Linked DNA regions of Homo sapiens. The gene in region 1 interacts genetically with each later gene. Each region holds a gene or a part of one and is shown in the gene's direction. Other genes may lie near its edges. The genes, in order: RET and PTK6.

Region 1 (3,812 bases):
GGAGTGGGGAAGGCATGGACCAGCTTCACCCTGAGTGACCCAGCAGTAAATGGTTGCTCCTTCCAGATAACATACAGGACCTTGGGTAAATTTGAATTTTGGGTAAACAACAAGCAGTTTTTTGGTATAGGTGTGTTCCATGCAACTTTTGCAGCTTCTCGAAAGACACACCTCTAGGTCCATCCATGCCCTCTTAGGAACATGCTGACACAGCTGCCATTCATGCCATTCATTGTGTATCTGAAATGTAGGTCCCACAGGGCGTCGTTGGCTGAATCTGGCTGCACTCACATCCTTCCTCCTGTACTTACCCCAGCCCAGGTGACCCCTGCTTTGTGACCATGATGTCCTGTACCCTGCCCTGCGCCCTGTGCTCCTGGCACTGTCTTTGCTGCCCTGGGTCTGTCACTCCGGTCCCCTTGGGCTCCATCCGTGGGCAGCTCAGCTGGTGCTGTTCCCTGTCCTTGGGCACTAGCTGGACGCTGGGCCCAGGCCAGCCCCCTGTGACCCTGCTTGTCTGCCACCTGCAGATGTGGCCGAGGAGGCGGGCTGCCCCCTGTCCTGTGCAGTCAGCAAGAGACGGCTGGAGTGTGAGGAGTGTGGCGGCCTGGGCTCCCCAACAGGCAGGTGTGAGTGGAGGCAAGGAGATGGCAAAGGTAAGCCCTGGAAACGCCCAAGGGAGGCCTGCAGGGGCGATGGCACCGGTGGAAACGGGGTCCTGGGGCCCTGCCAGCCTGGGGTGGCTCTCCCTGCTCCAGGTCTGCTTCTGGCACCTCATCCCCCATGTGGCTCTCGATGCCAGCATAGCGGGCAGCAGTGCAGGGCTTGGGAGAGGGCTTGTGAGTACAGTGAATGGTCCCCAGGCCGGATTCACTCTGGACTTGGGAAGGTCTGAACCAAAGTTGGGATGTGCTGGGGACAGAATGGCGTTTTTCTGGGAGGTCCTCGGCCAGGGGATGTGGTGTGGGCAGGGGACTCATTGTCTGCATCAGCCAGAGGCCAGCCTGGGTGTGCCCACCACCATGAGGGGCCCTCACCATGCAGCCCTGAGAGGGTCCCGGCCTCTTTGCTGTAAGGGCCACCTGTGTGAGGAACCCCCCATACCTCCTCTCCCATAAGCCATGGCTCCCCAGGATGCTTCCGCTGGCAAGGCTCTGTATATGGTGTTTCCCTACTCAGGCCTCCAGTTGCTCCTCCCTAGAGGGGCAGGATCTGCCTAGGAGGTGGTGGGGGCGTGTGGCGGGGCTCCCACATGGGTGACAGCCTGCTGTGTGTCCTGTGCAGGGATCACCAGGAACTTCTCCACCTGCTCTCCCAGCACCAAGACCTGCCCCGACGGCCACTGCGATGTTGTGGAGACCCAAGACATCAACATTTGCCCTCAGGACTGCCTCCGTAAGCAGGGTTTAATCAGGGCATGGGAACAGGTAGGAGATAGTAGGGGAAACCTGGATCCCACAGGCACTTCAGCCAGAGTTGCCAGGGCTGTCAGTTCTATGCATCAAGCTGAGCCTCCTGTGCATTTCAGCATCACCCTAGCCATGGGGAGGGAGCAGGCAGGGTCAGGGACAGGGGGAAGGCAGGGACCCACAGACTGTCCAGGCCCCTGCTGAGGTCCCAGAAGTCGGCACACACAGATTTCAGAAGCAGAGAATGGTCAGTAGGGACACTGACAGGGAAAGTGCGGCCCTGAGCCAGACGAGGGACACTGCAATGTGCGGGTCAGGCCACCAGGCTCCAGTTTTGGAGGCAGAGTCCTTTGTTCAGATGAAATGTTAGGAGGGGGCCTGGCTTCACCCATGGCTTCAGAAAGGCACTGTGACCAAGCCCTGCCCGGCTAAGCCAAGCTGCTGGGCCCCTGGCCTCACTGGGCCTATGCTTGCGACACCAGTTGGGGAGGGGGCTCCTTGGGACACTGCCCTGGAAATATGGGCGCCTGGGGTGGTCAGGCGCCCCAGGAGGCTGAGTGGGCTACGTCTGCCCTCAGGGGGCAGCATTGTTGGGGGACACGAGCCTGGGGAGCCCCGGGGGATTAAAGCTGGCTATGGCACCTGCAACTGCTTCCCTGAGGAGGAGAAGTGCTTCTGCGAGCCCGAAGACATCCAGGGTGAGTGGGTGGCGGCCGGGACCACCACCACCTCCCAGCCCCACAGAGGTCTCAACAGCACATCTGAGGTCCCAACAAGGGAGGAAATTGCTGGGAGGCGAGTGGGCCCCATGAAACTTCCCTCCCTCCCTCTGGGCCTCTGTTACTCCACCCAGGAGAGGGGCCAGGGCCCCTGTAAAGTGTCTTCTGGCCATAAGTTCTATGATGGACAGGCCAGAAAAGCAGTTCTTCCACCAAACAACTTGTCAGCCTGACAAGTCACTGTCCCTGTGACCATGCAGCTGGGACCCACCCAGGAACACATTTCAAGGTCAGCAGGTATGGTGGGTTGCACAGCCACACTGACTACACTCAGGGGTGCTGTTCTGCCTGAGCATAGGGACACGTTTCTGTCATTGAGTTTTCTGGTATTATATAGCCCTACGTCCCTAGCCACTTAGCATTTTCATAAAGAAAATGCCAAAGACATTTGGAACAGAGGAAAATTTTGACCTCCCCTGCCAGCCCTCCAGTGCCAGCTGGTGTAATGAGCACAGCCTCTGCTGTGTGACCTTGGCAGGCTGCTCAGCCTCTCTGAGCCTCTGTCTCCATCTGTAAGAGGGCAATAGTGGTCTAGGAGGGGGCAGTAAATGGCAGTACCCATGCTCGATGGGGTGTTCTCAGGCCTTCCCACACCTCCATGGCCACTTCCCAGCTGGCGCGGACACGGCAGGCTGGAGAGCCATGAGGCAGAGCATACGCAGCCTGTACCCAGTGGTGCCGAGCCTCTGGCGGTGCCAAGCCTCACACCACCCCCACCCACAGATCCACTGTGCGACGAGCTGTGCCGCACGGTGATCGCAGCCGCTGTCCTCTTCTCCTTCATCGTCTCGGTGCTGCTGTCTGCCTTCTGCATCCACTGCTACCACAAGTTTGCCCACAAGCCACCCATCTCCTCAGCTGAGATGACCTTCCGGAGGCCCGCCCAGGCCTTCCCGGTCAGCTACTCCTCTTCCGGTGCCCGCCGGCCCTCGCTGGACTCCATGGAGAACCAGGTCTCCGTGGATGCCTTCAAGATCCTGGTGAGGGTCCCTGCGGGGCAGGGAAGATCCCCTGCCCTCCCCAGCTGCCTTCCAGGGAGGGAGGCCAGCTGGGGAGACAGAGGCCATCCTGTGAGGGGCTGCCAACGCTGGGCAGACGAGGCCTGTGTTCTGCCCCCATTTCCATAGGGCGCTGTGTGGGGACAGTCTGTGGGGTGGGACTGTGATGAGGTGCCGTTCCCATCTAGGTGAGAGGCAGTGGTCAGGGTCACAGCATCGGGCAGGGGAGCAGCAGTGTGGATGGAGGGGCACTGAAGTCAGAAGGGGGTGCCTTTCTGGGGAGCCTGGCCTGCAGGTCTGCATGTGCTACTCAGAGCCTCCAGGCTGTGCCGAGTATCCTGGAGCCTCCTTGTCCCGGCCAGGCAGGCCTCTGCCCTCTCCTGGTGGTGGCCTGCCCCTTCAGTGTTCCTACTAGCACTGTCCAGGGCGCTGGAAGCCAAGCCCAGTTCTGGAAGTAACAGAGGCTCAGAGCCAAGGGTGTGAGTGAACGGTGAGCCACGCAGCTTATGGTGGCGTGAATAGCTCCTCGGCAGGAGCCTCCAGGGAGGAAGCTGAGCACCCAGTGGCCACAGGGCCCTGGCAGTTCCCATCTCAGGCTGGGAGGTGGCCTGGGATTCCTGGGAGGG
Region 2 (3,750 bases), on another chromosome or scaffold:
CTGGGGACGCAGGGAGGCGTCGGAGTTGGGGTGGCCACACAGCTCACGCTCTCCCTCCCAGTGCGGGACACGCAGGCTGTGCGGCACTACAAGATCTGGCGGCGTGCCGGGGGCCGGCTGCACCTGAACGAGGCGGTGTCCTTCCTCAGCCTGCCCGAGCTTGTGAACTACCACAGGGCCCAGAGCCTGTCCCACGGCCTGCGGCTGGCCGCGCCCTGCCGGAAGGTAGCCGCTCCGCCCTGACTTGGTCACGCGGGGTCAGGCTGGGGGGTCACAGGCTGGCATTTCCTACTGGGAGAGGTTGGCCGGGCAGCATGGGAGGGGTCCTGACTCACTGACCTGGGGCCCACTGGAGGGAAGCCCATGGTTCTGCAGAGCACAGGTGTTTGCCTGAGTTGGGGGTGGGGCCAGGAGACCATCCCCGGGCCTGGCCACTCTCGGAGAGGCCAGCGGCACTCTGCAGGGTCCTGGCTCCGGTCTGTCTGGGTGTTTCATGCTGGGCTGGGGGCAGCCCCCAGGAGAGTCCACCCTTGTGTCAGACACTCAGAAACCCCCAACCCAGGCTGATCGTGGCCCTAAATCTGAGGCTAAATCCAGGCTCCCTGTGCTGGCTTCAGACTGGCACTTCCTGAAGGATGAGCCCCTGCCCTGTGTCCCCGACTCTTCCTCCAGCACGAGCCTGAGCCCCTGCCCCATTGGGATGACTGGGAGAGGCCGAGGGAGGAGTTCACGCTCTGCAGGAAGCTGGGGTCCGGCTACTTTGGGGAGGTCTTCGAGGGGCTCTGGAAAGACCGGGTCCAGGTGGCCATTAAGGTGATTTCTCGAGGTGAGTGGGCCCCGATCAGGGCTCTGTGTGGCCCCGTGCCTGCCCTGGGCCACCCTCCCACCCCGCCAACAGGGACCTCTGGCCTCGAGCCCCAAGCAGCACCCACAGCGTCCATGCGAGAGTGGTTCCCTTTCAATTGCACCTATGTTTTTACCTAAATACATTTATTATAAAAGAAAATTTTAGGCCGGGCACGGTGGCTCACATCTGTAATCCCCACACTTTGGGAAGCCAAGGTGGGCGGATCACGAGGTCAGGAGTTTGAGACCAGCCTGGCCAACATGGGGAAACCACGTCTCTACTAAAAATACAAAAATTAGCCGAGTGTGGAGGCATGTGCCTGTAGTCCCAGCTACTCGGGAGGCTGAGGCAGGAGAATCGCTTCAACCCAGGAGGCGGAGATTGCAGTGAGCTGAGATCGCGCCATTGCACTCCAGCCTGGGCGACAGAGCAAGACCCCGTCTTGGGAAAAAAAAAAAAGAAAGAAAGAAAGAAAATTTAAAATCCTTGACGTAATGGAAAGCCATTAAAATAGATCACTGGAAATGGGTAAAACTTCCCTGGAACCCGTCTGGGCCCCAGCAGAGGTCTGGCCTCTATGTCAGAGGTCTGGGCCGGGCACAGGAAGAAATCGGGTGGCCACCACAGCCCCGTGGGTACGCCAGGCTGGGGCCCTGTGGGGCCGGCTGCATCTGCCATTTCGTGGCCTCGGGAGCCAGGTGCCCTGTCGGGGGCAGGAGGTCTGTGTGTCCTGCACAGCTGCTGGGTGTGATGGCTGCTGTGTGTGGGGGCAGGGCCTTGGCCTCTTCCTTGGGGCCTGGGGGGTCAGGGGCTGCATCCACCGAGGCCACCCGTCCCCGCAGACAACCTCCTGCACCAGCAGATGCTGCAGTCGGAGATCCAGGCCATGAAGAAGCTGCGGCACAAACACATCCTGGCGCTGTACGCCGTGGTGTCCGTGGGGGACCCCGTGTACATCATCACGGAGCTCATGGCCAAGGGCAGCCTGCTGGAGCTGCTCCGCGGTGAGTGGCATGGGCCGGGGCTCTTGCTGGAGGCAGCGGGGGCACGTGAGGAAATAAAGTGCACACCCCCCCCCCACGTCTACACACACACACACGTAGACACACAGACACACAGACACACACATGCACACACAGACACAGACACAGACACACAGAGACACACACGCACAGACACACATGCACACACACATGCACACAGACATACACATGCACACACAGACACACACACAAGACACATCACATGACACACACAGACATACACATAGACACAGACACACACACAGAGACACACAAAACAGATCACACGGACACACACAGACACACACACAGATCACACGGACACACACAGACACACACACACACAGACACACACTGATCCAGACACACACACAGACACACACAGATCACATTGGCTCAAAGACTTCATCCTCTCTAAGTTCCATTATTTCCTTTCTCACCAAAACCAAAGACAATCGCTGCCAGGGAATGGAGATGCCCGTGCGTGAAGGCGCAGTTTGGATTCCGATGTTAGAATGGGAGGGAACGTTGTGGTATAGGAAAAATGCCGTGTGTGTCTGAGGAGAGCTACACTGAGGCACCACGCACGTTTGCGCTCTGAGCGAAAGGCTCCGTACCCCTCGCCCTCACACAAAGGGCTTGATCATCTCAGACAGTCCCCACGCCCTTCAGGGTCCTCCGGGAGGGAATGTGGGGTAAAACAGGCACCACCAGGCCGCAAGCCGCTGACAGCCATTCTCCTGTTCGAGTTCCCACTGCCTACATCACGCAGTCATGAGCCTCTTCGCTGGTCCTTCTGCGTCCAGCTCCTCCCGCGTCATCACAAACTTCCAGAAGGGAAATCGCTGGGCTAGACCACTAGGAACTGCTCCTTGGTTCTTTTTTTTTTTTTTGAGACGGAGTCTCACTCTGTCGCCCAGGCTGGAGTGCAATGGCGCAGTCTCGGCTCACTGTAACCTCCACCTCCTGGGTTCAAATGATTCTCCTGCCTCAGCCACCTGAGTAGCTGAGATTACAGGCACCTGTCACCACGCCCAGCTAATTATATATATATATATATATATATATATTTTTTTTTTTTTTTTTTGAGACGGAGTCTGGCTCTGTCGCCCAGGCTGGAGTGCAGTGGCGTGATCTCGGCTCACTGCAAGCTCCGCCTCCCGGGTTCACGCCATTCTCCTGCCTCAGCCTCCCGAGTAGCTGGGACTACAGGCGCCCGCCACCACGCCCGGCTAATTTTTTGTATTTTTAGTAGAGATGGGGTTTCACCGTGTTAGCCAGGATGGTCTCGATCTCCTGACCTCGTGATCCATCCGCCTCAGCCTCTCAAAGTGCTGGGATTACAGGCGTGAGCCACCACGCCCAGCTTGCTCCTTGGTTCGTGATAAACAGTTGCCTTCCAGAAGGGCGGTAGCTGGCCTGCAGTTCCAATTTTCAATCAGGCCAGCTGCCCTTTGCCCCGGCCCCTCCTCTGAGCCCGCAGAGCTTGGAGGCAGATGAGACATGGCCCAGCCTCCCCAACCCTTCCCCACCTCAGCTGGCTCAGCTGACCCCAGGCTCTGCTCCACTCCCCTCTGCAGACTCTGATGAGAAAGTCCTGCCCGTTTCGGAGCTGCTGGACATCGCCTGGCAGGTGGCTGAGGGCATGTGTTACCTGGAGTCGCAGAATTACATCCACCGGGACCTGGCCGCCAGGAACATCCTCGTCGGGGAAAACACCCTCTGCAAAGTTGGGGACTTCGGGTTAGCCAGGCTTATCAAGGTAGGGCCCTCAGAGGGCGTGGCTGGGGTCGTGGCCGGGGCGTGGCCGGAGGGCTGGGGGCTTCCTGTGTGTGGAGCTGGGGACTCGGCTGGGAGCAGGATGCGGCCCCTGCCCTCGGG

Evidence for each region.
Region 2: changes in RET (region 1) and PTK6 together harm fitness less than expected from each alone (positive genetic interaction), as found in Homo sapiens cells (one large-scale study listed by BioGRID).

What each region holds. Positions count from the first base shown.
Region 1 is NC_000010.11:43,111,569-43,115,380, forward strand, and holds part of RET (proto-oncogene tyrosine-protein kinase receptor Ret isoform a precursor), read left to right. Parts: intron 1-530; coding exon 531-656; intron 657-1,284; coding exon 1,285-1,395; intron 1,396-1,987; coding exon 1,988-2,107; intron 2,108-2,911; coding exon 2,912-3,168; intron 3,169-3,812. UniProt on the Homo sapiens protein: Receptor tyrosine-protein kinase involved in numerous cellular mechanisms including cell proliferation, neuronal navigation, cell migration, and cell differentiation in response to glia cell line-derived growth family factors (GDNF, NRTN, ARTN, PSPN and GDF15).
Region 2 is NC_000020.11:63,530,627-63,534,376, reverse strand, and holds part of PTK6 (protein-tyrosine kinase 6), read left to right. Parts: intron 1-61; coding exon 62-225; intron 226-672; coding exon 673-826; intron 827-1,689; coding exon 1,690-1,851; intron 1,852-3,449; coding exon 3,450-3,631; intron 3,632-3,750. UniProt on the Homo sapiens protein: Non-receptor tyrosine-protein kinase implicated in the regulation of a variety of signaling pathways that control the differentiation and maintenance of normal epithelia, as well as tumor growth.